Regions from separate parts of the Homo sapiens genome. Here all the other regions are linked to region 1. The links come from fine-mapping of genetic effects on gene expression. A gene starts in region 1. Each other region holds a variant in brackets. All regions are shown on one strand. Distances are between the middles of the regions. Region 1 holds the start of MIER2 (MIER family member 2). Region 2 holds the start of LOC124904605. Region 3 holds the start of LOC101928344 (a long non-coding RNA gene). Region 4 overlaps PLPP2 (phospholipid phosphatase 2). Region 5 overlaps MIER2 (MIER family member 2). Region 6 has its middle 7.2 kb from the start of C2CD4C.

Region 1 (4,867 bases):
TCCACCCACATGGAGTTGCTAGTTTTGGACACAGACAACAAACAAGTGGACATGTATGGTACCGAGAAGAGAAAACAGGGCGCACGGGCTCTGCAACTGCGGGTCAGGGAAGGCCTGGGGGGCCTCAGTCGAGGTGGAACCATCGTTGGCAGCCCCCAAATGGGTAGAGTGCACCAGCAAACAGGAGCCCAGGGCCCTAGAGTAGGGGGCAGATCCGTGGGGACCACCTCACAGGGCTGTGGGACTCAGCAAGGAGGAGCATTTTATCCCAGGGACCATGAAAAGCCATGGAGGGTTTTAGGTAGGAGCAAAAGATGGTGCTCTTAGGTTTTTAAAAGATCAATCTAGTATGCCTGAGAAAAGTATGAAGCATTCCCGTCTGCCACTGTGGTGCTTATGATTATTCTGGGATACTGATACAGAATAAAGTAGCTAGTACTGATCACGTGCTATAAAGTTACAAATTGCCACTTTTACGGGTTAAAAACAGTGGAATATCGTCAACTTCACAAGATTCAACTTCCATGTACAAGCCGTTGTGGCAGGACCTCATCAGACCTCCTAGCTCTGAAGGGTGACCATTAAACTTCCCATTTCAGAGATGAGGAAAAGGAAGTTCTGAGTCACTGGGCAACCTGCCCAAGACCACACAGAACAAGTCCGGTGGTCAGACAGCTTGCCATGGCTCCTCACGCTCAGCACCTCATACTTGTTGGTCCTAACCCACCCACGTCTCTCTCTGACCAGACTCTGCATCCCTGTAGGAGAGGCCCTGTCTGCTCCATTCACTCCCAGATCCTCAGGCCGAGGACAGAGCGGGACCTCCTTAGAAAATCAAATCAAATTCACTCAACAGGGCACCACCCCAAAGTGTAAAACAGGGTTAACAGGAGCAGCCGGACCACAAGCTGCTGTGCACATTTACGGAGCTCAGCCTAGAGCAGGGCAGAACAGCCACATGGCAGCTCTGGGGGAGGCTGGCTTGGGAGTCTGACTTGTGCCATCCCAGACACAGAGCTACCTGTCAGGCCACGTGTGTTGCCCAGATTCCAGGAGCACAACTCATTCGACCACCACGTCGCTGCAGGGCCACTGGGAGACGCGGCTTCTGCCTCCGACCCTGGAGGACAGCCACCATCTGCATGGGGACTCAGTCTCCCTAAGCGTCTCAAGAAGAACTAATTCTCGATGAAGGAACTGGCCGGTGGTCTGGCCTAGTATCGAGACACCTACACCGTCTTTGGCATAAACACAGGGCCTGTTACTGCCCCTGAGGTCGTCACCAGGGGGAGAGAATGGCCAGTCCTGCCTCCCACAACGCCCAAGACATAAACACGCAACGTGGCACCACGGCCAGGCCGCAGTTCCAATCCCGGCTTCCCACGAGGCGGCTGTGCCTGGCTGGGTGGGCACCTTTTCCTTTGGGCTCTATCCCAGAGATAGGATCAGCTCTTGAGTCTGCCCGCCTGTCGTAACTTCTGCGCACAGAAGTCATGCACTGAGTCCCACTGACTGAGCACCTCGCAGCCGCCGCACCTTCACCTACATTATCTCTTTCCATCTTCACCAGGGCCCTCCAAGGTGAAAGCAAGTCCACACAGGCTCATCCACCACTCCAAAATCAAAAAAAGCTTCAAAAGCGAAAGTTTCTTCCTTCCTGGTTTGACCTGACACGAAGCTATCTGTTGTCTTATCCTAGACAGTCCTAGGTGGGTTTGATCAAACATCACAGTCCAAAATCCCACAGATCCTCAAATTGGAAAAATTCTGGATTCCAAAATATAGCTGGTCCCAAACATTTCAGATAAAGGGTCCCGGGCTTGTTTCCTGGACGAGGGAGGAGGCTCCAGAAGTAACTTCGTGCCCGGGAGAGGCTGGTCCAACTCTTCTGAGATCAGCCCCGACGCTCTCTAGGCCCCGGCAGACCCACCCACCCTGCGCCCAGTTCGCGCCAGGCGGGTCCGCGTCGGGAGTTCAAATCCCGCCCGGGGTCTGACCCAGCCCCGCCGGGGGGCTCGCGGGCGGCGGAGGCGCGGTGGGTCCACCGGGATCCCGATGGGGAGCGCGGGGCGCCTGGCGGCCCCAGCACTCGGCAAAGTTGGCAAAGGCGCGGGAGGGGAGGCCTGCGCGCCGCGGGGCCCGGGCCGGGGCCGGGAACCGGAGCCGGACCCTGGAACGGAGCCGCGCGCCCACCGGACCCCCGACACCAGCCCCGCCCCGCGTCCCTCCCCTCCCCCACCCCGGCCCCCGCCCGCCCCGCGCCGCCGCGCATGCGCACTGCAGCCCGCGATGTGGCAGCCGGGGGAGTTGGGGGGTGGGGGCCGGCCGGGGGCGGCCGCCGATGGAGCCCCGCGCCCCTCCGGCCCCGGACGGGCCAGGCGCCCCGGCCGGCCTCAGAGCTCCAGAGCGGGGCTCTCCGTCCCTGGGGCCCACGACGAGGCCGAGCCACGGCGGCGGGGGGCGCGGACGCGCGGGGGCGGGGGGCCGGCTCCCCCGGCCCGCTCACTCACCTCCGCCATGGCCGTGTGTGCGCGGGAGGCGGTGGCCGCGCCGGGATCCCCGGATGAGGGGCCGCGCACTCATTGGCTGTGGAGCCTGGAGGGCGGGGCAGGGGGCGGAGCCTGGAGGGGGCGGAGAGCGGGCCGGGCGCGTAGTAGGTGCGCGGGCGCGGGCGCGGGCGCGCAGCCGAGCGTGGCCGGCGGCTTCTGGCGAGCTTGCGGTGTCTTTCCGGCCGTCTCTGCTGGACCCTGATCTTGGCCTTGGCCTTGGCGGAGGAGACTGCATTCCATAAAAATACGAATTCCTGATAATCACACCTGCGTGGGGACCACGTGGTCCTGTGTGACCTCTTCATTCCCTCGGCTGCTCGCTGTTAATACCCCGCGTGGCAGACTAGGAAACTGAGGCCCAGGGCGACGGGCCACCCAGAGTGTCAGTGATAGAGCCAGAATTGGTGTCCGGGCTGCGTGGTTCTGGAATTTTCTGCACTTTCGCACCCGTGATGAGCAAACTAGCGCGCGGAGGAACCAATCGGGGAGCTTGCGAACGCGCACCAGTCGGAGAGGTTTTAGAAACGGTGGCCCCGCGCCGGAGAGCCCAAGGCGGGAGGCAGGGAGGTGGGCTTGACCCCAGGGCCATTTGGTTCTGCAGTCCGTCGTTTCGCAGATTGAACATTTCTGGAACACGTGCACGTTCTGATCCTGAGGGTTTGAAGGAGACAGCCCTAACGCCTGTCTTCAGGGCGTTTAGAGTGGAGGATGGGAAGGCAAGGACTCGCCACACCTTAAATTTGAGACGGATAAGTGCCGTGAATCTTCGGGGCGCACGATGCAGAGAGAGGATAGGAAGCAGGGGTGGGGCGTGAAGAGGCAGGGGCCAGGTGGGAGCTGTGGGGCCTGGACCAGAGTGCAGAGAGACTTGAGAAGGTGGACACCACAAGACTCGCTGATGGAGGGAAGCTGGAGAGAGTGAAGGATGGCCTCCAGATGTCTGGCTTGCGCAAATGAGTGGAGGGCGGTTCCTACTGAGACCAGGAAGAAGAGAACTGGAGACCAGGAAGAAGGGAATTGGGGACCAGGAGGAAGGGAATTGGGGACCAGGAAGAAGAGAATGAGTCTCATTCCTGTTTCCCAGTGATCAGCCAATGAATAGTGAGAACTTGACATGCATCAGCCTTGATTCCTGATGCAAAATCATTACTCAGTCCTCTGAGAATTCACCAACCAAGAGATAGAAGAACCACTCTGGAGGGGTCTACCCTCACTCCTTTTTTGGTTTACATCATTGAGATTGAGGGTTCTGGCCCTCGTGTTGAAGAGTCCTCACTGATTTGTGCAAGAGTTGGTTCCTTCCTTTATTATTCATTTGTTATTATTCATTCAGTCATTCAGTGAACTAAACACATATCTTATGCAGTCCTCAACTGGGTGCTGGGTAGCCAGAGGTCCTGTGAAGCAGGGAGAAGCATGAACAGATAAGAGAGTGAGGTGCTGTGCTGTAACAGGTGGAGGGGCCCGAAGACAAGGGCTTGAGTCCACCTGGCAAAACGAGGGAAGACTCTTAGGAGAGGGCTTGGCAAGAATCATCACATAGATGTCAAATGAGGACTTGGGTGAAGAGAAGGGTATTGTGGCTTGGAACGGTGACTCACACCTCTAATCCTAACACTTGGGGAGGCAGAGGCAGGAGGATCACTTGAGGTCAGGAGTTTGAGACCAGCCTGGGCAACAGGGTGAAACCCTGTCTCTACTAAAAATACAAAAATTATCCGGGCGTGGTGGCGAGTGCCCATAATCCCAGCTATTCTGTGGAGGCTAAGGCAAGAGAATCACTTGAACCTGGGAAGGCAGAGGTTGCAGTGAGCTAAGATCACTGCACTCCAGCCTGGGAAACAGAGTGAGACACTGTTTCAAAAAAAAAAAAAAAAAACTTTAAACATTAGAGGGCATGACGATAATGTGCCTGTAGTCCCAGCTACTCTGGAGGCCGAAGTGGGAGGATCTCTTGAGCCCAGGAGGTCGAGGCTGCGGTAAGCAGTGATTGTGCCACTGCACCCCAGCCTGGGCAACAGAGTGAGACCTGTCTCAAAAAAAAAAAAAAAAAAGAGTGAAGGATATTTTAAGGTCTGAAAGTCTGTCTCCGTAGACTGTTAGTCGCAGTGGAGAAATGAAGCCACTTGTTGGGTGGGTGATAAAACTCAGCATCCCTGGTAAAGGGCAGGTGCACACCATGTGCACCTGGATGTGGTGTCCAAAGCAGGACACGGCATCACTGAATCCAGCCAGCAATGCACAACCCATATCTACATATGAGGAAATTTCAGACAAACCCAAATAAGGAATATTCTGTTAAACAAAAGAGGGACTGT
Region 2 (4,867 bases), 39 kb before region 1:
AAAGCACATCCTCATCAGACTCCTCAATACACCAAAGCACATTCTCATCAGACACCTCAATACACCAAAGCACATCCTCATCAGACTCAATACACCAAAGCACATCCTCATCAGACTCCTCAATACACCAAAGCACATCCTCATCAGACACCTCAATACACCAAAGTACATCCTCATCAGACACCTCAATACACCACAGCACATCCTCTTCAGACTCAATACACCAAAGCACATCCTCATCAGACTCAATACACCAAAGCACATCCTCATCAGACACCTCAATACACCAAAGCACATCCTCATCAGACTCAATACACCAAAGCACATCCTCATCAGACTCCTCAATACACCAAAGCACACCCTCATCAGACACCTCAATACACCAAAGCACATTCTCATCAGACACCTCAATACACCAAAGCACATCCTCATCAGACTCAATACACCAAAGCACATTCTCATCAGACTCAATACACCAAAGCACATTCTCATCAGACTCAATACACCAAAGCACATCCTCATCAGACACCTCAATACACCAAAGCACATCCTCATCAATACACCAAAGCACATCCTCATCAGACTCCTCAATACACCAAAGCACATTCTCATCAGACACCTCAATACACCAAAGCACATCCTCATCAGACTCAATACACCAAAGCACATTCTCATCAGACTCAATACACCAAAGCACATTCTCATCAGACACCTCAATACACCAAAGCACATCCTCATCAGACTCAATACACCAAAGCACATCCTCATCAGACTCCTCAATACACCAAAGCACATCCTCATCAGACTCAATACACCAAAGCACATTCTCATCAGACACCTCAATACACCAAAGCACATCCTCATCAGACTCAATACACCAAAGCACATTCTCATCAGACTCAATACACCAAAGCACATTCTCATCAGACACCTCAATACACCAAAGCACATCCTCATCGGACTCAATACACCAAAGCACATCCTCATCAGACTCCTCAATACACCAAAGCACATCCTCATCAGACACCTCAATACACCAAAGCACACCCTCATCAGACACCTCAATACACCAAAGCACATTCTCATCAGTCACCTCAATACACCAAAGCACATCCTCATCAGACTCAATACACCAAAGCACATTCTCATCAGACACCTCAATACACCAAAGCACATCCTCATCAGACTCAATACACCAAAGCACATCCTCATCAGACTCAATACACCAAAGCACATCCTCATCAGACACCTCAATACACCAAAGCACATTCTCATCAGACTCCTCAATACACCAAAGCACACCCTCATCAGACACCTCAATACACCAAAGCACATCCTCATCAGACTGCTCAAAACCAGTGGTACTGAAAAATCTTCAAAGCAGTTGGAGGAAAAAAACCAAGAGAGGACTGAAGATTTCCTGCTGGAGGCAGGGCAAGCTGGAAGACAGAAGACCTTGCACATCTGAAGAAAACGTCAGCAGGCTGCGGCGCTCCAATGAAAACTCCTCTATGCCCATCCCCAAACACCCAGGTTGCCGAGTGGCTGGCCCTGGTTCTCACAGCTCCTGGCACAGGCTCACCAGCAAGACCCCTGACTCTCCCACACCCATCATGCAAGTGGTCCTGGTCCTTCACCAATAGTCCCTGAGGCCAAGCCACAGTCACCTCCCAGCTGGGGGCCGGCCCTCCCCATATCCCATCACCATGCATGCCCACATTTCCCTCACTGATGTGGACAATATGCAACCCAACCAGCCTGCACCGTCCCTGCAGGGCGCTATTAACAATGCAGACCTCAGCCGGGCGCGATGTCTCACGCCTGTAATCCCAGCACTTTGGGAGGCCGAGGCGGGAGAACACAAGGTCAAGAGATAGAGACCATCCTGGGCAATAAGGAGAAACCCCATCTCTACAAAAAATATAAAAAGTAGCTGGGCATGGTGGCGGGCGCCCGTAATCCCAGGTGGCGGGCGCCTGTAATCCCAGCTACTCGGGAGGCTGAGGCAGGAGAA[T/C]CGCGTGAACTCAGGAGGCGGAGGTTGCAGTGAGCCGAGATCGCACCACTGCACTCCAGCCTGGCGACAGTGTGAGACCCTGTCTAAAAAAAAAAAGCAAAACAAAACAAAAAAACAATGCAGACCTAAAGTGGCTTCCACACCAAGAACAAAACTTGGCCTCATGACCTACTGTCCCCACCCCGCCCAACCTCTGCCCTCTGTGCCCTCAGCTTCTCCTGGAGACCCAGGCCTCTGTCCTCTGCATCTGCTGTCACGCCTGCCAGGCCTCTCGGCAAACTTTCAGCAAAGGAGGCCCATTCTCCTTCATGTTTCAGCTTAAATATCACTTCTAGGAGGCTGCCCCGACCACCTCTACCCAGACGTGGGCCCTCCTCACATCCCGTCATCGTGGCCACAATTCCCTTACTGACGTGAACAATACGTAGCCCACCACGTCATGCCCCCGGTGCACCCCCTCGCCCGTGTTGCTCACGACTTATCCTGGACCCTCCAAGAGACATGCAGGCCCCCAAGTGAGATGACGAGGACACCTGCCGCCCCAGCCCCCACCCGATCCACCACAAGGCACCCCGGGCTTCAAATCAAGTTTAATAAATAAAACAGCAAAGGGGGGTTCAAGGCAGTTATCACTTCACAGTGTGGTCCTTGGTGGGGTGAGGGATGGTCGAGTCCAACTCGGAAAGGGGCTCGAGCACAAGAGGCCGGACGACACCCGGGGCAGGGCGCGCCGCCGCCCACGGAGGACCCCACTCCAACGTGTAAACAGAAACAGAAACGAACGAGAGGGCCAGGGAGGAGGGGGACCAGGACTCCAAGCCATCTTGCTAGGAAGCTTCCCACAGAAGGAAGACCTGCAGGGCTGGGGAAACAGGCTGGAGTCTGGCCCCTGCGTGGCCAGCAGGGCCGGCTCCTCCGGAGGCTCCCTGCCTTGGTACCGGGGGAGGACAGCAAAGGGGATGTAAATCACCTGTCTCCTCAAACCCACGCCTGGGGTTGCTGAGGGACCCCACCCCAACCGCTCAGGATCGGGGAGCAGGGATGGAGGGGGAAGAGGCAGGTGGGGGTGTAAAGTGCGGCTTTTCCTGAAGTGGAGACGATGGGGTGGGAAGGCGAGGCTGGGGTGGGGGCCGGACAGCGAGGTATATGGCTCTGTGCCCCACGGGGTTGGCACTGAGTAGCAGCTGCCCACGACCCCCAGGGCTGGGGCAGCCCGCGGCCCTGCCGGGTGTGGAGAGACAGAGCCAAGCAGGGAGCTGAGGGCGCCCCGGCGGAGGCTGCTGGTGCGGGGCAGGGCGTCCTGCCCGTCTCCCCGCCGGGGCAGTGACGCCTTCCCTCGCCTCTGCTGGCTGGAAGGGACTAGGTGGCCGGCTCTGCCCTGCGTCCCAACGGCGGGGTCTCTTCTGTCCCCGGCTGCCCGACGGATCCCACGTGCAGGCAGCGGCCCGGACCCGGGTGGCAGTGCCGGGCGCTGACGGCGCTGGGTGGGGCCGTGGGTCCATTCTGTGTGGACAGGGGCAAGGGCTCACGGCCCAGCCACCTCACCCCAGTCCTGACGTGTTCTGAAGCAGAAGGAGGTGCTACCCCAAGGCCCGGGGGGTGGGGAAGGGGTCAGGAAGACTGACAGAGGCGGGCCCAGCGGCAGCGCTAAGTCCAGTCTGGGCCGCATACGCCGCCCGCGGCCAGGAGTCAGCAGGTCATCACGTTACAGCTGCAGGGGAGAGACCAAGAGAGACGCAGAGAGTGTCAGTGCGGCCCCACGTGCCTGCACAGCCCAGTGCTGAGCGCTGGACTCGAGACTCCCAGCCTTGCCTCCCCCACAGCCTATGGCAGCCGGGCCCGGGGTGCCCTGAGGGGAGCTGGTGGCTGGAGCAGGGGTGGGACAGCCTGGCACCTGCTCCCATTTGTGGAGAATGTGGACCACATGAATGTATTCTCCAGTCAAAAAATACATACAAGTAAAGAATAAACCTAAAGACACACTGAGAGCCTGCTCGTGGAGCCACACTGTCCTCGGGTCCTTGGGGCAAATGCCTCCCACCCTCCTCTGCTCAGCCTGAGGGCTGGGGGGACCTGGTTGGAGTGTTGCGGAGGCTCCGGGCATGGGGTGGCACTCACTGTGACAGGGGCTCCGAGTGTAGCCCGGGGGCCGGGCACGTGGGGTGGGCGGCCAGGAAGGGGTTCACGTCCCCAATGCCGATGAGTCCAAACTCGGTGACCGACAAAGCCACCTGTGCTGGGGCCACAGTCTCCTCCGGATCCCCGCTGAGGTCCACATGGCTGGAGATGAGGGGCAGCTCCTTGGGCAGGGCGAAGTCCACGGCCAGCCTTGGGCTGGCGTCTGGCTCCGGAGCAGTGACAGCTGGCTGGTATGAGGCTGGGTCGGCCAGGGCTGGGGGCCGATGGGACAGGGGTACAGCGGGGGACTCATCCAGCTGCTGGAAGGAACACGGCCCTGGCTCCGAGGACGGGAGTCCATCAGAGGCCACTCCGGGCTCATCGAGACCACCGGCCGTGCCATCCACGCTCAGTGGATCTGTGAAAGAGAACGCAACAGAGGGTGGGGCCTGCCCACAGCCGCGGATCCTGTGCAGGCTCCTGCCTAACTTTGCTGGGTCCAGCAAAGCCTGTGGATCCCTCCCCAGAAAAGCCTCCACACAAATACAAAAGACACCAGTTACACTGAAATCCGCGAGCCCCAGGTTAAGGGTCTCAGCTTTAGAAGTAGATTTTAGTTCATCAGACCAACAGTGGGTCACAACCCACATCTTTAAAAAGAGCAGAATACAATAGACATAGGTGTAAACAATGCCGGGGGCACTGCAGAGGGTAAATACAGGGTCTGTGGAATAC
Region 3 (4,867 bases), 99 kb before region 1:
CCTCAGAACACAATCCCTAGAAACAACCTACCTCAGATGAGATATTGCCTAATTATTTTCAAAAGACAGTGAAACATCATGGATGTAAATGTTTGCTGCAAAATAAATACATGCTAGAAACAGAAGCATCTGGGTCACAGCTATATTAGAGCTACCTGTGTTCCCCTGTCACTGACATTAAAACAAAAATGTCCAATACAATCATTCACAGCGTGGGAGAGGGGAAGTTGAAGGATGGAAAGGCCAGGCATAAAAGGATTTCAGAATTTCCGTCCATAAGGAAGTAGCTTTGTGCACTGTCTGTTACTGTGTGCAAGGTGAAATTTGAAGAATGAAAACGTGCAGTAACAAGGGCTCCTTTGTCCAACTCACCTCTCCAGATACCAAGTTTCAGACATGTTGCATTTTAATTGAAAGGTTGATATAATTTTTTTTAAAGAACACTTGCGGTGTTTGAAGTGACAAAGGCTGCTGTGACAAAAAAGCAGGGAAAGGGAATTTTTTTTTAAAAGCAAACAACAACAACAAAAACCCCACAGAAAAGCAAACAACAAACAAACAAAAAACAGAGGAAGAAGTCGAACACCCTGGGCTGTGACTACTTCCAGGAAGGGGCTACAAGAGGCAGTTGGAAATTCTATTTGTTTTGCAACTGTGGGTTTTCCGGCCCGCTTCCTTTCTAAAGTATATTACTCTGCTTTTGGTTCATGAAGTTATCCATTTCTGTTTTCTGGAACAGCTATGTATTTTCTTTATCTATCATCTATCTATCTATTTACCATCTATCTTTTCTACCTTTCGCTATCAAGAGCTTGGGTCAAGCAGGATAGAATTCCAGTGTATGTTCACTCTACCATTTAAAACAAGAGCTCTTGTAGGCATTCTCCATCACATCATAAACCTGAGCTTTCTAAAACAGGGTGTGGCAAACTACCATGCATGGACCATGTCTGACACAGTCTGCGTTTGTAAGTAAAGTTGTAATGGGACACAGCCAATACATGTGTTACATAATGTCTCTGGCTATTTTCATGGTATAATGGAAGAGCTGAGTCATTGAGAGAGAGACCATATGGCTTGGAAAACTTAAAATATTTAACATTTAGCCCCTTGCAGAAAATACTTGCTGACTCTTGTTTAAAAGATCTCTGTTTAGAATGCTACCTATTGAGTTCTGGATAGAATCACAACTCTTTACCACAATCAACACCGCTTCAGCCCTGCTTCTATATCCAGCCTCATCTATTTCTGCTCCTCCTCATTTTCCTTCTGGCCATGCTGATGGATTGTCAGCTTCCCAGATGTGTGAGAATCTCTCCTCCCTTCCTAACATTCTCATGCTCTCCCTCTGCCTCTCAAGAACTTCCTGCCCCATCTCTCATGACAAATCCTTTCTACATTCTTTAAGATGCAGCCCTTTTGCTCCTTCCTTAAGGATGTCTTGTCTGGCTCTATTTTGGGTGACGTGCTCCTTCTGCATCTCCCAGAGCCAGCCTGTGTGTGTCAGCTACAACATTTCTTTGCATCTCTGTGTCATATATCACCAAATCTGCCTAAGCTTGCATGAGTCACTGCATGACAACTTCAGACTCCACCAGCATTGTCCCCACTAACCACAAGGCTTAGACATTCGTCCAGTATGCTCGGGGTTGTGGGGTGGTAGCAGTAACTGGCTGGTGACCATCATTTCTTACATCAGAATCAAATCTGTAGATCTCTGCCATTCATAAGTATTTGGAGTTTAAAATTAGCATAAAGATTTTCCTTAAAATAAGAAGAAAGGCCTTGAGTAGGCTTTTGGAACATAGGATGTTTCCACTGGTTCATTTCTGTGTTCAATATTCCCACATGAATCTGAACACGACTCTGCTCTTAGTAGCTATGTGACCCTGGGAAAGTCACTCAATCTCCCTCAGCTAAATTTTGTTGTGTGAGTAATGAGGAGAGAGTTGTGATTTGTATTTAGTGAATAATAACAAACAAAAGGCATTTAGCTTTCTGGAACCTGGTATGTAGTAGAACCTCATGAAATACTAGCTCTGTTGATAAAACTAGACTGAAAGAAGCTTTCAAAGTCAACAACAGTTTGAGGCAGTGAAGGACGTAGAGGAGAAGCTGCTGCTGCAG[T/C]CTGTAGCTCCTGGAAGCCCGTTTTGTCCATGATTTAGCAGGAATGCATTACCCTTCCATGAGGAGGCACAGCCCACAGAAACCAAGGCCATTCTTTGAAGAAAAACATGTCTTAATAGGGTTTACATTATGTAACAGTGTAATACAAATAATAATTTATTATTAGTAATAATATAAAATTATTTACAGTACCGTAACCCTAACTCTAACCCCTAATCCTAACCCTAACCCCTAACCCTAATCCTAACCCAAACCCTAACCCTAACCCAACCCTAACCCTAACCCAACCCTAACCCAAACCTGACCCTAGCCCCTAAACCTAACCCTAACCCCTAACTCCTAACCCTAACCCCTAACCCTAACCCTAACCTTAACCCCTAACCCCTATCCCTAACCCTAACCCCTAACCCCATAACCCCAACCCTAAACCCAACCCCAACCCCAACCCCTGACCCTGACCCTGACCCTGACCCCGACCCCTAACCCTAAACCCTAACCCCTAACCCTAACCCTACCCCTAGCCCGAACCCGAACCCTAACCCTAACCCCTAACCCTAACCCCTAACCCTAACCCTACTCCAACCCCAACCCCAACCCTAACCCCTAACCCCTAATCCCCTAACCCTAACCCCTAACCCCTAACCCTCACCCTAACCCTAAACCACATGAGCAATGTGGGTGTTATATTTTGGGTGTCATGTGTGCCTTAGGAATGCTGCATTTGTATTCCAACGCTGCAACTGGACCCTGCAATGCAGCCCCTCGCCTTGCCTTGGGAGAATCTCGGTGCGCAGGATTCAGAGGGGCTTTTGGTTTCCCGTTTTCCACACTGAACCGTTCTAACTGGTCTCTGCCCTTGATTATTCACGGCTGCAACCGGGAAAGATTTAATTCACCGTCGATGCGGCCCCGAGTTGTCCCAAAGCCAGGCAGTGCCCCCAACGTCTGTGCTTAGGAGAATGCTGCTCCACCTTTACGGTGTCCCCCAGGTCTGTGCTAAGCAGAACGCAGCTCCGCCCTCGCGGTGCCCTCAGCCCGCCCGCCCGGGTCTGACCTGAGGAGAACTCTGCTCCGCCTTCGCAGTACCACTGAAATCTGTGCAGATGAGAACGCAGCTCCGCCCTCGCGATGCTCTCCGCGTCTGTGCTGAGGAGAACCCAACTCCGCTCTCGCAAAGGCACGGCGCGCCGGCGCCGGCGCAGGCAGGCGCGGCGCGCCCGCGCAGGCGCTGTTCGGGAGACGCGGCGCAGGGCATAGACGCACGCCTCCGCGTCCCCGGAGGGGAGGGGTCTCTGGGCGGGCGGGAGTGAGGCGCGGCGCAGGTGCAGGCGCAGAGACGCACGTCGCTGGGCTCAGGGTGGCGGGGCGTGTTGCAGGTGTACAGTCGCACGCCGCTGGGCGGGGAGCGCGGGAATGGCGAGGTGCAGGCGCAGACACACGTCCCCGGCGGCGCGGCGCACAGACGGGTGGAACCTGAGTAATCTGAAAAGCCCGGTTCGGGTGCCCCCTGCTTGTACCCGGGCACTACAGGACCCGCTTGCCCACGGTGCTGTGCCATTGCGCCCCCTGCTGGCGACTAGGGCAACTGCAGGGCCCTCTTCCTTACAGTGGTGTCCAGCGCCCCCTGCCGGTGCCGGGGCACGGCAGGGCTCTCTTGCTCGCAGTATACTGGCGGCACGCCGCCTGCTGGCAGCTAGGGACATTGCAGGGCCCTCTTGCTCACATTGTAGTGGCAGCACACCCGCCTGCTGGCAGCTGGGGACACTGCTGGGCCCTCTTGCTTGCAGTGTAGTCGGGGCATGCCCTCTTCTGTCCGCTGGGGGCACTACAGGATCCTCTTGCTCACAGTGTAGTGGCAGCACGCCCCCTGCTGGCAACCAGGGCACTTCACGGTCCTCTTGCTCATGGTGTGGTGCCCCTACGCCACCTCCTGGCAGCTAAGGACACTGCAGGGCCCTCTTGCTCACAGTGTAGTCGTCGTTCGCCCCCTGCTGGCAGCTAGGGACACTGCCGGGCCCTCTTGCTGACACTGTCGTGGCTGCACGCCACCTGCAGGCAGATGGGGACTAGGCAGGGCCCTCTTGCTCCCGGTGTGACGGCTGGCGTCCCCTACTGGCCGCCTCCTGCACCACTTAAAGTCAGAGCGCCAGTTATTAATCCCCATCAGTTCTGTAAATTAAAACTGAAAAGGAGCTATTACTGGGGAGAGCTGATGTCCCAGTTATTAACTTGGAAGAAAGATTTTCACCAAGAGGCAGTACAAAGATGGAAGATAACTTCATTGAAAAGAAATACAGTGTAAAGAGCTTATTGTAGGAAAATAGGGAGGAGTGGGTTCATAGTGCATGAAAACAGCCTAAGAGTCCTGTGCAGGGAATTTTATTTTGGACTTCTTCACATTCCTGCCTCTGTCTCAAGTCTATGCTTGTTTTCCTTGGTTTTCCTGCTACTGCCTTAGGTCCCTGACTTGCCCCACTTAGGCTTGTGGGACCTCCTGTTGATTGAGGTACACGTGGGGTGATGAATCTGAATCCACTCTGGCACCAACCTCCTTCCTGCCATCCCAGGCAGGCTGACAGCAGTCACGTTTGTATCTACTGCACCTGCCTCTTTTGAATGTCTTTCTCTGCCCTAATCTGTACTTATGGTGCCAGGTTTCTCTTAGGAATGTCCCCTTTGTCCTTCTTATCAGCATGTAGCTAGCAATATTCTGACATTTTTATTGCAGAGTGAATGATGA
Region 4 (4,000 bases), 58 kb before region 1:
AACAGTTGTGTGCCACCAAGCCTGGGTTCTAGACAAACACTTTTAGTTAGCCATTTAAAATATGTTCAAAGAAAAAAGTAAAAATAAATAAATACTATGTTCAAAGAGCCAAAGGAATATGAGAACAATGTCTCACCAAACAGAGAATATCAATAAAGAGAAAGAAGTTATAAAAAGGAACCAAATAAAGATTTGGTTATCTGAAATGAAAAATCACTTGAGGGAGGCTCAATAGCAGGTCTGAGGAAGCAGAAGAAAAAAGACAATGAACTTGAAAATAGGTCAATTGGCCGGGCACAGCGGCTCACACCTGTCATCCCAGCACTTTGGGAGGCAGAGACGGGCAGATCACAAAGGTCGGGAGTTCGAGACCAGCCTGGCCAACATGGCGAAACCCCGTCTCTACTAAAAATACAAAAATTAGCTGGGCGCAGAGGCACACGCCTGTAATCCCAGCTACTCGTGAGGCTGAGGCAGGAGAATCGCTTGAACCCAGGAGGCAGAGGTTGCAGTGAGCTGAGATTATGCCACTGCACTCCAGCCTGGGAGACAGAGCAAGACTCCAACTCAAAAAAACAAAGAAAATAGGTCAATTAAGATTATTTGGCCTGGCACGGTGGCTCAGCCTGTAATCCCAGCACTTTGGGAGGCCGAGGCGGGTGGATCACCTGAGGTCAGGAGTTCGAGACCAGCCTAGCCAACATGGTGAAACCCCGTCTCTACTTAATACAAAAAATTAGCTGGGCATAGTGGTACACACTTGTAATCCCAGTTACTCGGCAGGCTGAGGCAGAGAATCTCTTGAACCCGGGAGGCAGAGGTTACAGTGAGCCGAGATCGTGCCACTGCTCTCCAGCCTGGGGGACAAGAGAGAGACTTCGTTTCAAAGAAAAAAAAAAAGATTATTCGGCTGGGGCCAGGTGTGGTGGCTCACGCCTGCTACTCAGGAGGCTGAGGCAGGAGAATTGCTTAAACCGAGGAGGCAGAGGCTGTAGTGAGACAAGATCACGTCACCGCACTCCAGCCTGGGCGACACAGTGAGACTCTTTCTCAAAAAAAAAAAAAAGAAAAGGAGAAAAAAAACATTATTCAGCCTGGCCGAAAAAAAGAAAAAAAAAAAAGATTATTCAGCCTGGCCAGGCATGGTGGCTCACGCCTGTAATCCCAGCACTTTGGGAGGCCAGGGTGGGTGGATCACCTGAGATCAGGAGTTCGAGACCAGCCTGGCCAACATGATGAAACCCCATCTCTACTAAAAATACAAAAAGTTAGTCGGGCGTGGTGGTGCACGCCTGTAGTCCTAGCTACTCAGGAATCTGAGGTAGGAGAATCGCTTGAACCCAGGAGGCAGAGGTTGCAGTGAGCCAAGATCACACCACTGCACACTGCACTCCAGCCTGGGTGACAGAACAACATTCTGTCTCAAAAAATAAAATTAATAAAAGTAAATGAAAATACAAAAATTAGCCGGGCGTGGTGGCGCACACCTGTAATCCCAGCTACTGGGGAGGCTGAGGCAGGAGAAGCACTTGAACCCAGGAGATGGAGGTTGCAGTGAGCCAAGATTGCACCACCGCACTCCAGCCTGGGCCCAGACTCTGTCTCAAAAAAAAAAAAGAAAAAAAAAAAAGATTATTTACCCTGAACGGGCTCAGTGGCTCACACCTCTAATCCCAGCACTTTGGGAGGCTGAGGCGAGAGGATTGCTTGAGCCCAGGCATTCGAGACCAGCCTGGGCAACATGGTGAGACCCTATTTCTACAAAAAAATTTAAAAACCAGCTGGATTTGGTGGTGTATGCCCGTAGTACCAGCTACTTGGAAGGCAGAGGTGGGAGGATGGTTTGAGCCCAGGAGTTCAAGTCCTGGGCAAGATAGCAAGACC[C/T]CCATCTCTAAAAGAAAAAAAAAATTAAAAGCAAAACAAACAAACAAAAAAAGACAGTAATGAGGAATTGAAAAAAGAAGATATAACCTAAGCAAACCTCAACGAAATGACAGAGGTCCTTCCTTATCAGTAATTACATTGAATATAAATAAACACTCCAATTAAAAGTCAAAGTTTCATTAAATGCCTTAATTCAATAAAAAGATTAATATATAATTTAAAAAACATTAAAAAAAAAGTCAGAGATCTGGCTGGATGTGGTGGCATACACCTGTAATCCCAGCACTTTAGGAGGCCAAAGTGGGCGGATCGCTTGAGCTCAGGAGTTCAAGACCAGCCTGGGCAATATGGCAAAACCCCGTTTCTACCAAAAAAAAAATAAACAGTAGCTGGATGTGGTGGCACGTTCCTGTAGTCCTAGCTACTCGGGAGGCTCAGGTGGGAAGATGGCTTGAGCCTGGGAGTCCGAGGCTGCAGTGAGCTCAGATCATTGCACTCCAGCCTGGGTGACAGAGTGAGCCTCTGTCTCAAAAAAAATCAGAGATTGGACAATACATTAAGAAACATGGCCCAATTTCATGCTAGGTATAAGACACTTACTTTACAGTCAGAGACATAAACAGGTTGAAAGTCCAAGAATGGAAAAAAAAAATATTCCATGCAAACAATAACAAAAAGAGAACCAGAATAGCTATGTTAATATCAGACAAAACAGACATCAAGACAAAAATTGTTGAGACAAAACTCATATATCTCATTCTATGATGATGAAATGGTCAATCTTTCAAAAATATATAACAATTACAAAGGTAAATGTACTAAACAACAGAACCCCAAAATACTTAAAGCAAAAACTGACAGAATGTTACAACATGGATGAACTTCAAAAACATACAAGAATGCACTAACTTATACAAAAATTAGCCGGGCGTGGTGGCGCACGCCTGTAGTCTCAGCTGCCTGCTGGCTCTTCATGATTTGGCTCCAGGGCCTTCTTCAGCTCCCATTCCCCACAAGAGTGAAGGCTGCTGGTCCACACCCACCTGGCCTCGGTGACATCAGCAGGGTTTCCCCTGCACACCTTCTCCAGCTGCACATAGACCGAGCAGTTGACCCGGCTCCAGTCGGGGTCGCAGACGGCTAGGAAGTTGGGCCTCAGACGCCCAATCATGTACTTGGCCAGGTCTGTCAGAGACTGGCTCACGGCAGCCCCAAACAGGAAGGTCCCCAGCACCTTGTATACAGCAGCCACGTAGTTGTTGAAGTCCGAGCGAGAATAGAGCCGGTCTGTGTACACCAGGTAGGCTTCCCCGGCCGAGACCTGCAAGAGCAGCCGCAGGAACCAGTGGGGGTCTCGGTCGGCCCAGGGGCCCTCACTCCTCCGCACGGGCCTCCCCAAGGCTGCTGGAGAGCTGGGGACTCTGAAGGGGGCCCTATTACCCACAGGTACCACTCAGGGCAAGGCTGTGTCCCCCGGCCCCACACAGACCTCCAGGGCAGGGCTGTGCCACCCCCCCATCAGGCCCCCAGGGTAAAGCTGGCCCCACCCCATCCCCCTACCCAGTCCCTCTGAGCCCCTCCTGCCTTACAAGGATGACGGTGGCCGTGATGGTGACCCCAGCCATGAGCCCGTGGGTGATGGTATCTGGACGGTAGGGGTACCGGATGGAGTCATCCCCGCAGTAAAATCCTCGCTTGTACGGGGCGTTCACCAGCGTCAGGATAGCGAAGGGCAGGGAGGCTGGTGGGGAAGAAAAGCCTGGGAGCTGTGAGGTTCTCTCACCAGCTGGGCCTTGGGGCCCCACACACCTGCCTTGGCCTGGAGGCCTCCCACCTCTACTCTCACCAGACAGCAAGGAAGAGCTTTTTTCACAGCCCAAATAACACTCCCTTTCGCATCCCCTCAGACAAACACAAACTCCTCAGGCGCTCTGCCCCTCACATCCTGGCAGCCTCCTTTCTGCTCCTTGAACTAACTCAGCAAACACCCACCTTTGCACAGCCACTTCTCTCTGCCCAAAATATCTTTTTTTTTTAAATTTTTAAAAGTAGAGACAGGGGTCTCATGTTGACCAGGCTGGTCACAAACTCCTGGGCTGGAGCGATCCTCCAGCAT
Region 5 (4,867 bases), 33 kb before region 1:
GGCCCAGCCGCGTCTGCTGGGCGAAGTAGTCGTAGCGCTCCGACTTCTTCCACAGGTAGTAGTACTCGACACACTCGCCCACTGACCGTGTGCGCACCTGCGGGGAGGGGTCAGGAGCCATCTCTGTCCCCGGCTGCCCAGCCCCAGCACCTGCACCACGATCCCAGGACGTCCTGGGACCCCGGGACAGCACAGAAGGAGCACAGCACCCACCACTCTCAGATAACGCAAGACCCCCCGACCCATGACCCTAACAGGCCACAGGCTATGCCCACCACAGGGAACAGGGGCTCGGAGCACTGTGGCACTGCCTCCTGTTTCAAGCCCCCTCAGAGCCCTCCAGCTCCTGGCTTGAGACCCCTTTCCCTTCTGTAGCATCAGCCAGACAAACGTACCCTCCAGGCCTCTGTCTACTGCTCACCCACCCCATCCCAGACCATGAGCCACGGGCCAGTTGCGTCCACCTCATCTGCCTGCTTCTCACAGGCCCGGGGTGGGAGTGGGAGTGACAACCCCCGGGTCCACAGACTCCTGGACTGAGCCCCTTCCCCGGGAGGAAGAGGCACAAGCCCGCGGCGCCTGCTTTCCCACCGAACACATCCCTCCAGGGCCCAGCGAATGCTTCCCAAGTGCACAGAAGACACCGCAGAAGGACACATGGGTTCTGTGAACCCGACAAAATTCCCAACGTAGCACATAAAGGGCCAAACACACATGCACACAGGCTTCAGGGAGACGAGAAGGGACACACACACACACACACACAAGGCTTCAGGGAGACGAGAAGGGACACACACACGCACACAAGGCTTCAGGGAGACGAGAAGGGACACACACACACACACACACACAAGGCTTCAGGGAGACGAGAAGGGACACACACACGCACACAAGGCTTCAGGGACACGAGAAGGGACACACACACACGCACACAAGGCTTCAGGGAGACGAGAAGGGACACACACACACACACACAAGGCTTCAGGGAGACGAGAAGGGACACACACACACACGCACACAAGGCTTCAGGGAGACGAGAAGGGACACACACGCACACAAGGCTTCAGGGACACGAGAAGGGACACACACACACACGCACACAAGGCTTCAGGGAGACGAGAAGAGACACACACACGCACACAAGGCTTCAGGGAGACGAGAAGGGACACACACACACACGCACACAAGGCTTCAGGGAGACGAGAAGGGACACACACACACACGCACACAAGGCTTCAGGGACACGAGAAGGGACACACAGCAAGTGTGTTCCATGTGGCACCTGGCACAGAGCTGGGCGCACACCTGGCAACACCTCCAACATCTCCACCCGGGAGGCTCATCCCACAGAGAGCTTGAGGCTGTGGCCACTGCTGGTGATGGCGGAAAAGACCCCCTCACCTGGACATGCTCTGGGCCAACTAACCCACCGCCACCCAGAACGAGGATGCCCCATGCTCACCGCTGCGAGAACAACGTGGGGTCCTGCCTGGGGGCGAGACCGAGACAACCTCCCTGCAGGGCAAACCTCAAACGCACGCCACGAGGGAGCTCTTCTGTGAAGGGCCAGGGTGAAATACGCACTGGCTCAGGCTGACCAACGTGTGCTGGCTACACACGGCCCCTCGCGGCTGGGCCAGGACCTGCCCGGAGCTCCAGAAACACGGCCGGGAGTTACAAAAACGCGGCCCTGAGCTATAGAAACACGGCCCGGAGCTGCAGAAACACGGCCCGGAGCTATAGAAACACGGCCGGGAGCTGCAGAAACACAGCCGGGAGCTATAGAAACACAGCCCGGAGCTATAGAAACAGCCCAGAGTCCAGAAACACAGCCCGAAGCTCCAGAAACACAGCCCAGAGCTATAGAAACACGGCCCGGAGCTATAGGAACATGGCCCGGAGCTGTAGAAACACAGCCCGGAGCTACAGAAACACGGAGTCCATAGAAACACGGCCCAGAGTCCAGAAACACAGCCTGGAGCTGTAGAAACACGGCCAGGAGTCCAGAAACACGGCCCACAACTCCAGAAACACGGCCCGGAGCTACAGAAACTTGACAGGGGCTCCAAGTGTAGCCTGGGAGCACCACACTCCAGCCACACCTCGCCCCGCTGTCTCCAATCAAAACACCACGTGGTGCTGGAGTCTGACAAGGACAGTCCATCGCTGCTGCGCACGGCACCGCACAGTCACCTGAGCAATGTCCTG[A/G]GCCGTACAACCAGCCCCGGGCAGGTGCCTCCTCACCCAAGCCCTTCAGTGGACGACATCGGGCCCCAAATGGAGCACGGTCCCAGGACACGAGGCAGAAGCAAGGCTCGGCAACAAGGCCACAGCCCACTGGTCCTGAAGGGACTCAGTGCCCAACCGGGGCGTGGACAGAGGCGGAGAAGCCACTGGTCAGAGCCATGGGAAGGTTTTCAGCCAGAGATGTCTGACTGCCAAGAGGCTGGCTTGGAAGTTACCACTCAAGAAGCCACAGGGCAGAGGGCACTGCTGCAGACATGCAGAGACCCACAGAGGACGTGGGGAAGGTCTAAGGAAGGGCAGAAGGCCCCGGCACTTGGCAGCACCTGCCTGTCATGAGGGTTTGTCCCGGGTGGCAGGACCTGGGTCCCTGGAGGAGGGAACCAGGAGACCCCTGGTCTCCAGGTGTCAGGGGTTCTGCTGTGGGGCCAATGCTGGACACTGAGCCAGCAGGCTCTGCTCAGAGGACACAGACTTGAAGATGAGGTGCCCAGGGCCCTGGGGTGGAATGTGAGGCAGAAACAACTACTAGAATTCAGCTTTTGCCACATTCTTTCCCAAAGCCAGAGCCTTGTTCTTGTGGGGACAGGAAAGGGGCCCACAGCAGTCAGTAGCAAAAAATGCAGAAGACAGCAATGGGCACACGGTGAGGAGGCGGACACAGGACACGGGGCTCCAGGCCTCCAGTCGGCCGTGTGCTGTGTGCCTGCGGACCCTGAGCCCCTCCCCAGATCGAGAAGCCCCCGGTGGAGCCTGGCAGTGGAGTCCGCACCTTGTTGGCCTGGATCAGGTGAAAGTTCTTTCCATGCACACGGAAGCCGTGCTCAAAGTTCCTGCACTCCTCTTCACTCCAAGCACAGAGCCCATCTGCAAACACGGCCGGGGAGAACGGTCAGTGGTGCCCAGGGCGGGGCCGCAGCGGAAGGAAGGCCCAGGCCGGGGAGAACAGTCAGCGGCGCCCAGGGCGGGGCCGCAGCGGAAGGAAGGCCCAGGCCGGGGAGAACGGTCAGCGGCGCCCAGGGCGGGGCCGCAGCGGAAGGAAGGCCCAGGCCGGGGAGAACGGTCAGCAGTGCCCAGGGCGGGGCCGCAGCGGAAGGAAGGCCCAGACCGCTGCTCACCTCGGATCACCTTCACGTTGAACCGCAGCCTTCGCAGGGCCTCCTCCACATTGAAGTTGCATTTCACCAACTCGTACAGCGCCTGGGGAGAGGACATGTTGGCTCTTCCATGGGCTCAGCGCAGGAGCCGACAGCAAGAACTGTCTATACCATCCAGCGAGTGGCATCAGGGGCCGTCCACACCACCCTCCTGGGCGATGTCAGAGCCACCTACACCTCTATCCAGGGAGTGACATCAGGGGCCGTCCACACCACCCTCCTGGGCGATGTCAGGGCCACCTACACCTCTATCCAGGGAGTGACATCAGGGGCCGTCCACACCACCCTCCTGGGCGATGTCAGGGCCACCTACACCTCTATCCAGGGAGTGACATCAGGGGCCGTCCACACCACCCTCCTGGGCGATGTCAGAGCCACCTACACCTCTATCCAGGGACTGGCATCAGGGGCCGTCCACACCACCCTCCTGGGCGATGTCAGGGCCACCTACACCTCTATCCAGGGAGTGACATCAGGGGCCGTCCACACCACCCTCCTGGGCGATGTCAGGGCCACCTACACCTCTATCCAGGGAGTGACATCAGGGGCCGTCCACACCACCCTCCTGGGCGATGTCAGGGCCACCTACACCTCTATCCAGGGAGTGACATCAGGGGCCGTCCACACCACCCTCCTGGGCAATGTCAGGGCCACCTACACCTCTATCCAGGGAGTGACATCAGGGGCCGTCCACACCACCCTCCTGGGCGATGTCAGGGCCACCTACACCTCTATCCAGGGAGTGACATCAGGGGCCGTCCACACCACCCTCCTGGGCGATGTCAGGGCCACCTACACCTCTATCCAGGGAGTGACATCAGGGGCCGTCCACACCACCCTCCTGGGCGATGTCAGGGCCACCTACACCTCTATCCAGGGACTGGCATCAGGGGCCGTCCACACCACCCTCCTGGGCGATGTCAGAGCCACCTACACCTCTATCCAGGGACTGGCATCAGGGGCCGTCCACACCATCCTCCTGGGCGATGTCAGGGCCACCTACACCTCTATCCAGGGAGTGACATCAGGGGTGTCTACATCCCCTTGCAGGATACCCGGAGGCGTCTACACCTCCTCCCTGATACGTGGTTTTAATTGGCCCCCCTTCTGACCTGAGTAGCTGTTCCAGTGCCCTGGCCCCCACACACCTGACCCCTGCCCTCCCCTCTGCCCTCCCTGGCCCCTGGAGGCACTGGGGTGTGAGCTCTGGCCCACGCCACGGCAGCCCTCAGCCCCTCTGTCCCCGGCATGGCAGCCCCCACCTGCTCACTGTCTTTCACGGCTTCTCCCTCTGGGAGCTGAGGCCCGGCCATCTCGTGCCAACGCCGCTTCACCGCCCTGTACAGGAACTCCTCCACCTCCCTCTCAGGGAGGACGCTGGGGTCCCAGAGCAGCTGGTCTTCGTTCTCGTAGACTGCACAAGCAGAGGGCAAAGGTCAGCTTGCAGGAACCCAATCTGCACCCAC
Region 6 (4,867 bases), 57 kb after region 1:
AGGGAGGTGAGAGGGGAGCTTGGGGGCAAGGGTCATGTGTCTCCACGGCCGGGCAGGTGCACACTCCCAGGGAGGCCACGAGGACTCTGTGGCCCGGGGATTGGAGTGAACCACGCTGAAAGGTCAGAGGGCAGTGTCCCAACAACAGTGCCCCCGTTCCAGCCCCAACGGCAGCCCAGGGGTTCCCAGGCCCACCCTCACTCTTGCAGGGGTCCCCAGGCCCACCCTCACTCTTCCAGGGTTCCCAGGCCCACCCTCACTCTTCCAGGGTTCCCAGGCCCACTCTCACTCTTCCAGGGTTCCCAGGCCCACCCTCACTCTTCCAGGGGTCCCCAGGCCCACCCTCACTCTTCCAGGGGTTCCCAGGCCCACCCTCACTCTTGCAGGGGTTCCCAGGCCCACCCTCACTCTTCCAGGGGTCCCCAGGCCCACCCTCACTCTTCCAGGGGTCCCCAGGCCCACCCTCACTCTTCCAGGGGTCCCCAGGCCCACCCTCACTCTTCCAGGGTTCCCAGGCCCACCCTCACTCTTCCAGGGTTCCCAGGCCCACCCTCACTCTTCCAGGGTTCCCAGGCCCACCCTCACTCTTCCAGGGTTCCCAGGCCCACCCTCACTCTTCCAGGGTTCCCAGGCCCACCCTCACTCTTCCAGGGTTCCCAGGCCCACCCTCACTCTTCCAGGGGTCCCCAGGCCCACCCTCACTCTTCCAGGGGTTCCCAGGCCCACCCTCACTCTTGCAGGGGTTCCCAGGCCCACCCTCACTCTTCCAGGGGTCCCCAGGCCCACCCTCACTCTTCCAGGGGTCCCCAGGCCCACCCTCACTCTTCCAGGGGTCCCCAGGCCCACCCTCACTCTTCCAGGGTTCCCAGGCCCACCCTCACTCTTCCAGGGTTCCCAGGCCCACCCTCACTCTTCCAGGGGTCCCCAGGCCCACCCTCACTCTTCCAGGGGTTCCCAGGCCCACCCTCACTCTTGCAGGGGTTCCCAGGCCCACCCTCACTCTTCCAGGGGTCCCCAGGCCCACCCTCACTCTTCCAGGGGTCCCCAGGCCCACCCTCACTCTTCCAGGGGTCCCCAGGCCCACCCTCACTCTTCCAGGGTTCCCAGGCCCACCCTCACTCTTCCAGGGTTCCCAGGCCCACCCTCACTCTTCCAGGGTTCCCAGGCCCACCCTCACTCTTGCAGGGGTTCCCAGGCCCACCCTCACTCTTGCAGGGGTTCCCAGGCCCACCCTCACTCTTCCAGGGTTCCCAGGCCCACCCTCACTCTTCCAGGGGTCCCCAGGCCCACCCTCACTCTTCCAGGGGTCCCCAGGCCCACCCTCACTCTTCCAGCGGTTCCCAGGCCCACCCTCACTCTTCCAGGGTTCCCAGGCCCACCCTCACTCTTCCAGGGTTCCCAGGCCCACCCTCACTCTTCCAGGGGTCCCCAGGCCCACCCTCACTCTTCCAGGGGTTCCCAGGCTCACCCTCACTCTTCCAGGGGTTCCCAGGCTCACCCTCACGCTTGATGATTTGCGAGGACGCACGGAACTCCCAGCAAGCTGTCCTCGTCACAGGTAGGGTTTGTCACAGTGCCGGGGTGCAGGTGCCGTGGGCTGGGGAAGAGCACATGAGGCAGCGTCCCGGAGAAGCCCCGTGGTCCTGTCCGGGGAAGCCGGGAACTGCTCACTCACAGGGCGCACGGACCACCAGGAAAGGGCACGGCAGCCTAGGCGCCCAGAGCTCTGCGAGGGATCCCTCGTGGGGGCTTGATTGACTGATTGCTTGCCACGGGGTTGCCCTCGAACTCCAAGGGTGTCTGACGCTGTGAGACCCAAGGCGCTCCCAAGTCCCACGGTTGGTCTTGCTGGTGTGACCCTCCCTACCCCAGACCAAGACGCTCCCCTCAGGCAGGGCAGAAATCACCTCCCAAAGCCAAGGCAAAGCCCAGACCTCACCCCGCA[C/T]GAGAGGATTCCTCACCCCACGGGGGAAGGTGCGGGTCTCATCCGTGGCACCGCAGCAGGGCTCAGCCGGTGACCAGGACTGGGTGCCACGGGTGCTGGGTCCGTGCCCACTCCAGCCCCACCAGCAGGCAGGGAGGGTACAGGGTGCTGCAGAGGAAACCGAGTCACAGAGAACGGAGGGACTTGTCAGGATTCTGACCCATGGCTGGCAGAGCACAGCTCCCTGGGGCCCTCTCTGCCAGATGGCAGGGGCCGGCCATGCAAGCAGGTGTCCAGTCCCACCCAGGAAGGGCAGCGTGGGTCCAGCCCTGGTCCGAATTCCTGTCCTGTCAGCTGGGAGGTGTGCGCAGGCCCCTTTGCCTTCTGTGCCTCGGTGTTTCCATCTGTGGATGGCAGTAGGCAGCGTCTTGCTGAGGATTCAGCGGGTCCTCCCGCCCACCCACCCACGATGCGCTTAATCAACAGGCCCTGCCCTGCGTGTGACCCTGGAGAGAGGCTCTGGGACCACGTCACTGTACAGTAGGGTAAACTGAGGCTCAGGCGCCGGCCCGCGGGAATGGCCCGCCCTCGTGGGAGGAGCATGTGTGCGGGTCGGCGTCCGCCTCCTCCTTTTTATTGAAGTCATTTTTCTCCTCCTGTCAGCGGAACTGGCCGTGGGCAGCCCCTCCCTCCCACCCCCAGGAGCTGAGAAGAAAACAAAAGCTTAATCGAATCCGGCACTGGGGCGGTGGGTGCCGCAGAGAGAGGCCGAGGGAGCCCCCGCCTGGGTGGGTCTGAGGCCGCCTGTAATTATGGCCCTGATGTGATTATATTAATTATCGTCGCTATTTTGTGCCGGCTTCCGCCCGGCGAGCCTGTGGATTGAGCTCTACTGCACACAAGCCGCCAGGGCTCATCACAGACAGAGCCTTCGGCCTCGGGAGCCTGAGACCCAGAGAAGCCACGCACTGCCCCGGGCCACACCCCACGTGGAAGGTGGGGCTTGAAACTCACCCTGCGGCTCCCCACACACGTCAGGGTTAGAGGTTCAAGGCCCCAGAGAGGACAGGCCGCAAGGCAGGGGCCCTGGGAAGGTGTTACTCCTCCTCCTCGGATGGGAGAGACCCACTGGATCAGTGTTCTGTCACCTTAAAAAATGAATCAGCCGGACGTGGTGGCTGACGCCTGTAATCCCAGCACTTTGGGAGGCCGAGGCAGGCGTATCACCTGAGGTCAGGAATTTGAGACGAGCCTGGCCAACTTGGTGAAACCCCGTCTCTACTAAAAATACAAAAAACTAGCTGGGTGTGGTGGCGGGCGCCTGTAATCTCAGCTATTTGGGAGGCTGGGGCAGGAGAATCGCTTGAACCCTGGAAGAAGAGGCTACAGTGAGCCGAGACTGCACCTCTGTACTCCAGCCTGGGCGACACAGCAAGACTCCGTCTCCAAAAAACAAACAAACAAAACAAAACAAAAAAACTGAAACAAGCCGGCTTGAGCAAACAAGGCACTTTACCGGCCCACCCTCTGAGCTGAAATGGTGCGCAGTTATGGACTTCAGGCATAGCTGGATCCAGGTGTCCGCAATGTCTCCAGGCTTCTGACTCTTCATCTGTTGTTCCCTATGATGGCTCCCCTCTGAAGAAGGGGCATCTTTTTGTAATTTGCACCAAACGGGGTGCCCCCCGCTTGTGGTGCCCATGGCCTTCCTGAGGGTCGGGAGACTCAGGATGGCCGCCAGTCTGAAAGGAGAGACTGCTGGCAGGTGTGCCTGCCTCCTTCACCGCACAGCACCCACTGGGGCCGAGCGCTCTGTGGCGCCAGGGATGCTGGAGGTGCAAACAGTAGATTCGTTCTGCTCAGGATCAACATCACAAGGCAGCAAACGGCCACAGCCAGGAGGGAACAAGGGCATCTGACTCCCCCGGGGTGGGGGCTGACCTGAAGGGCAGTGGGCCAAGACCTGAGGCAGGGCGAGACACCACGCAGGCGCAGAATCCCTGGATGACGCCCACTTGGAAGTGGAGGGGGGAGGGCATGGGCAGCTGCAGCTCCCAGACACCAGCACACACAAACGCACACACAAGTGCACACCAGCAGCGACACAGGCACACACAAGCGCACACAGGGTCACACATGCATACACGGCTCACGTGCTTACACGTGCACACGCCAGCACACAGGCAGCTATACTCGAGTGCCTGCAGGCGCTCACCTGGCACTGTCACATACGCCCAACAGATGAGCACGGTAACGGCACACGCAGTCACACTGCACACACATGCGGAAGCACATGGCGACGTGTGTGCACCTACCTGGCACGCACACGCACACACCCGTGCAGCCTAGCGATGAGTGGCTGGGGCTGAAGAGGCTACAAGGCGCCCGTAGCCCTGTCAACCCGTCCCAGGCCCTGACTGGGGCTCACCAGGCCGCGGTCAGGAGGCCGGGCTACGCTGAACCCCAATTCCCAAAAGCTCCTGGTGGATTTGAGATGGCAGAGACATCTGGACCCCATGGGCAGCAGGAGAGACAGAGCAGCCCAGCCTGGGCTGAGAGCACAGGGACGGGTCCTGCCCCGAGGGGTGTGAGGGGGGGACGGGGTCCTGCCCTGAGGGGTGTGGGGGGGACGGGGTCCTGCCCTGAGGGGTGTGGGGGGGACGGGGTCCTGCCCCGAGGGGTCTGAGGGGGGGACGGGGTCCTGCCCTGAGGGGTGTGGGGGGGACGGGGTCCTGCCCTGAGGGGTGTGGGGGGGACGGGGTCCTGCCCTGAGGGGTGTGGGGGGGGGACGGGGTCCTGCCCTGAGGGGTGTGGGGGGGACGGGGTCCTGCCCTGAGGGGTGTGGGGGGGACGGGTCCTGTCCTGAGGGGTCTGAGGGGGGGACGGGGTCCTGCCCTGAGGGGGTGTGGGGGGGACGGGGTCCTGCCCTGAGGGGTGTGGGGG

What was found.
Region 2: its variant is fine-mapped to the expression of MIER2 in whole blood (INTERVAL, PIP above 0.99).
Region 3: its variant is fine-mapped to the expression of MIER2 in whole blood (INTERVAL, PIP above 0.99).
Region 4: its variant is fine-mapped to the expression of MIER2 in sun-exposed skin (GTEx, PIP 0.97).
Region 5: its variant is fine-mapped to the expression of MIER2 in nasal epithelium (TOPMed, PIP 0.91).
Region 6: its variant is fine-mapped to the expression of MIER2 in thyroid (GTEx, PIP above 0.99).

The regions. Positions count from the first base shown.
Region 1 is chr19:342,264-347,130 of GRCh38, forward strand. It overlaps MIER2 (MIER family member 2), which reads right to left and starts at 2,533. Exons shown (of 14, transcript NM_017550.3): 1 at 2,511-2,533. The coding sequence starts at 2,519. RefSeq lists an enhancer at 638-1,589 and silencers at 1,898-2,007, 2,308-2,357, 2,428-2,877.
Region 2 is chr19:302,987-307,853 of GRCh38, forward strand. It overlaps MIER2 (MIER family member 2), which reads right to left. Exons shown (of 14, transcript NM_017550.3): 13 at 4,133-4,550; 14 at 2,587-3,725. The coding sequence ends at 3,704. LOC124904605 reads right to left here and starts at 1,375. Exons shown (of 2, transcript XM_047439789.1): 1 at 407-1,375; 2 at 1-340. The coding sequence starts at 1,375. The variant T/C (reference allele first, on the strand shown) is at 2,015.
Region 3 is chr19:243,216-248,082 of GRCh38, forward strand. It overlaps LOC101928344 (a long non-coding RNA gene), which reads right to left and starts at 3,310. Exons shown (of 13, transcript XR_002958438.2): 1 at 3,182-3,310. LOC107985295 (a long non-coding RNA gene) reads right to left here and starts at 2,116. Exons shown (of 2, transcript XR_001753827.2): 1 at 1-2,116. The variant T/C (reference allele first, on the strand shown) is at 2,128.
Region 4 is chr19:284,547-288,546 of GRCh38, forward strand. It overlaps PLPP2 (phospholipid phosphatase 2), which reads right to left. Exons shown (of 6, transcript NM_003712.4): 2 at 3,474-3,625; 3 at 2,928-3,205. Among named protein-coding and RNA genes, the nearest start is that of PLPP2, 4.9 kb to the right of the region's middle. RefSeq lists enhancers at 2,579-3,080, 3,081-3,580. The variant C/T (reference allele first, on the strand shown) is at 1,885.
Region 5 is chr19:308,829-313,695 of GRCh38, forward strand. MIER2 (MIER family member 2) reads right to left here. Exons shown (of 14, transcript NM_017550.3): 8 at 4,664-4,815; 9 at 3,363-3,444; 10 at 3,017-3,111; 11 at 1-97. Among named protein-coding and RNA genes, the nearest start is that of PLPP2, 20 kb to the left of the region's middle. The variant A/G (reference allele first, on the strand shown) is at 2,209.
Region 6 is chr19:399,485-404,351 of GRCh38, forward strand. No RefSeq gene overlaps it. Among named protein-coding and RNA genes, the nearest start is that of C2CD4C, 7.2 kb to the right of the region's middle. The variant C/T (reference allele first, on the strand shown) is at 1,946.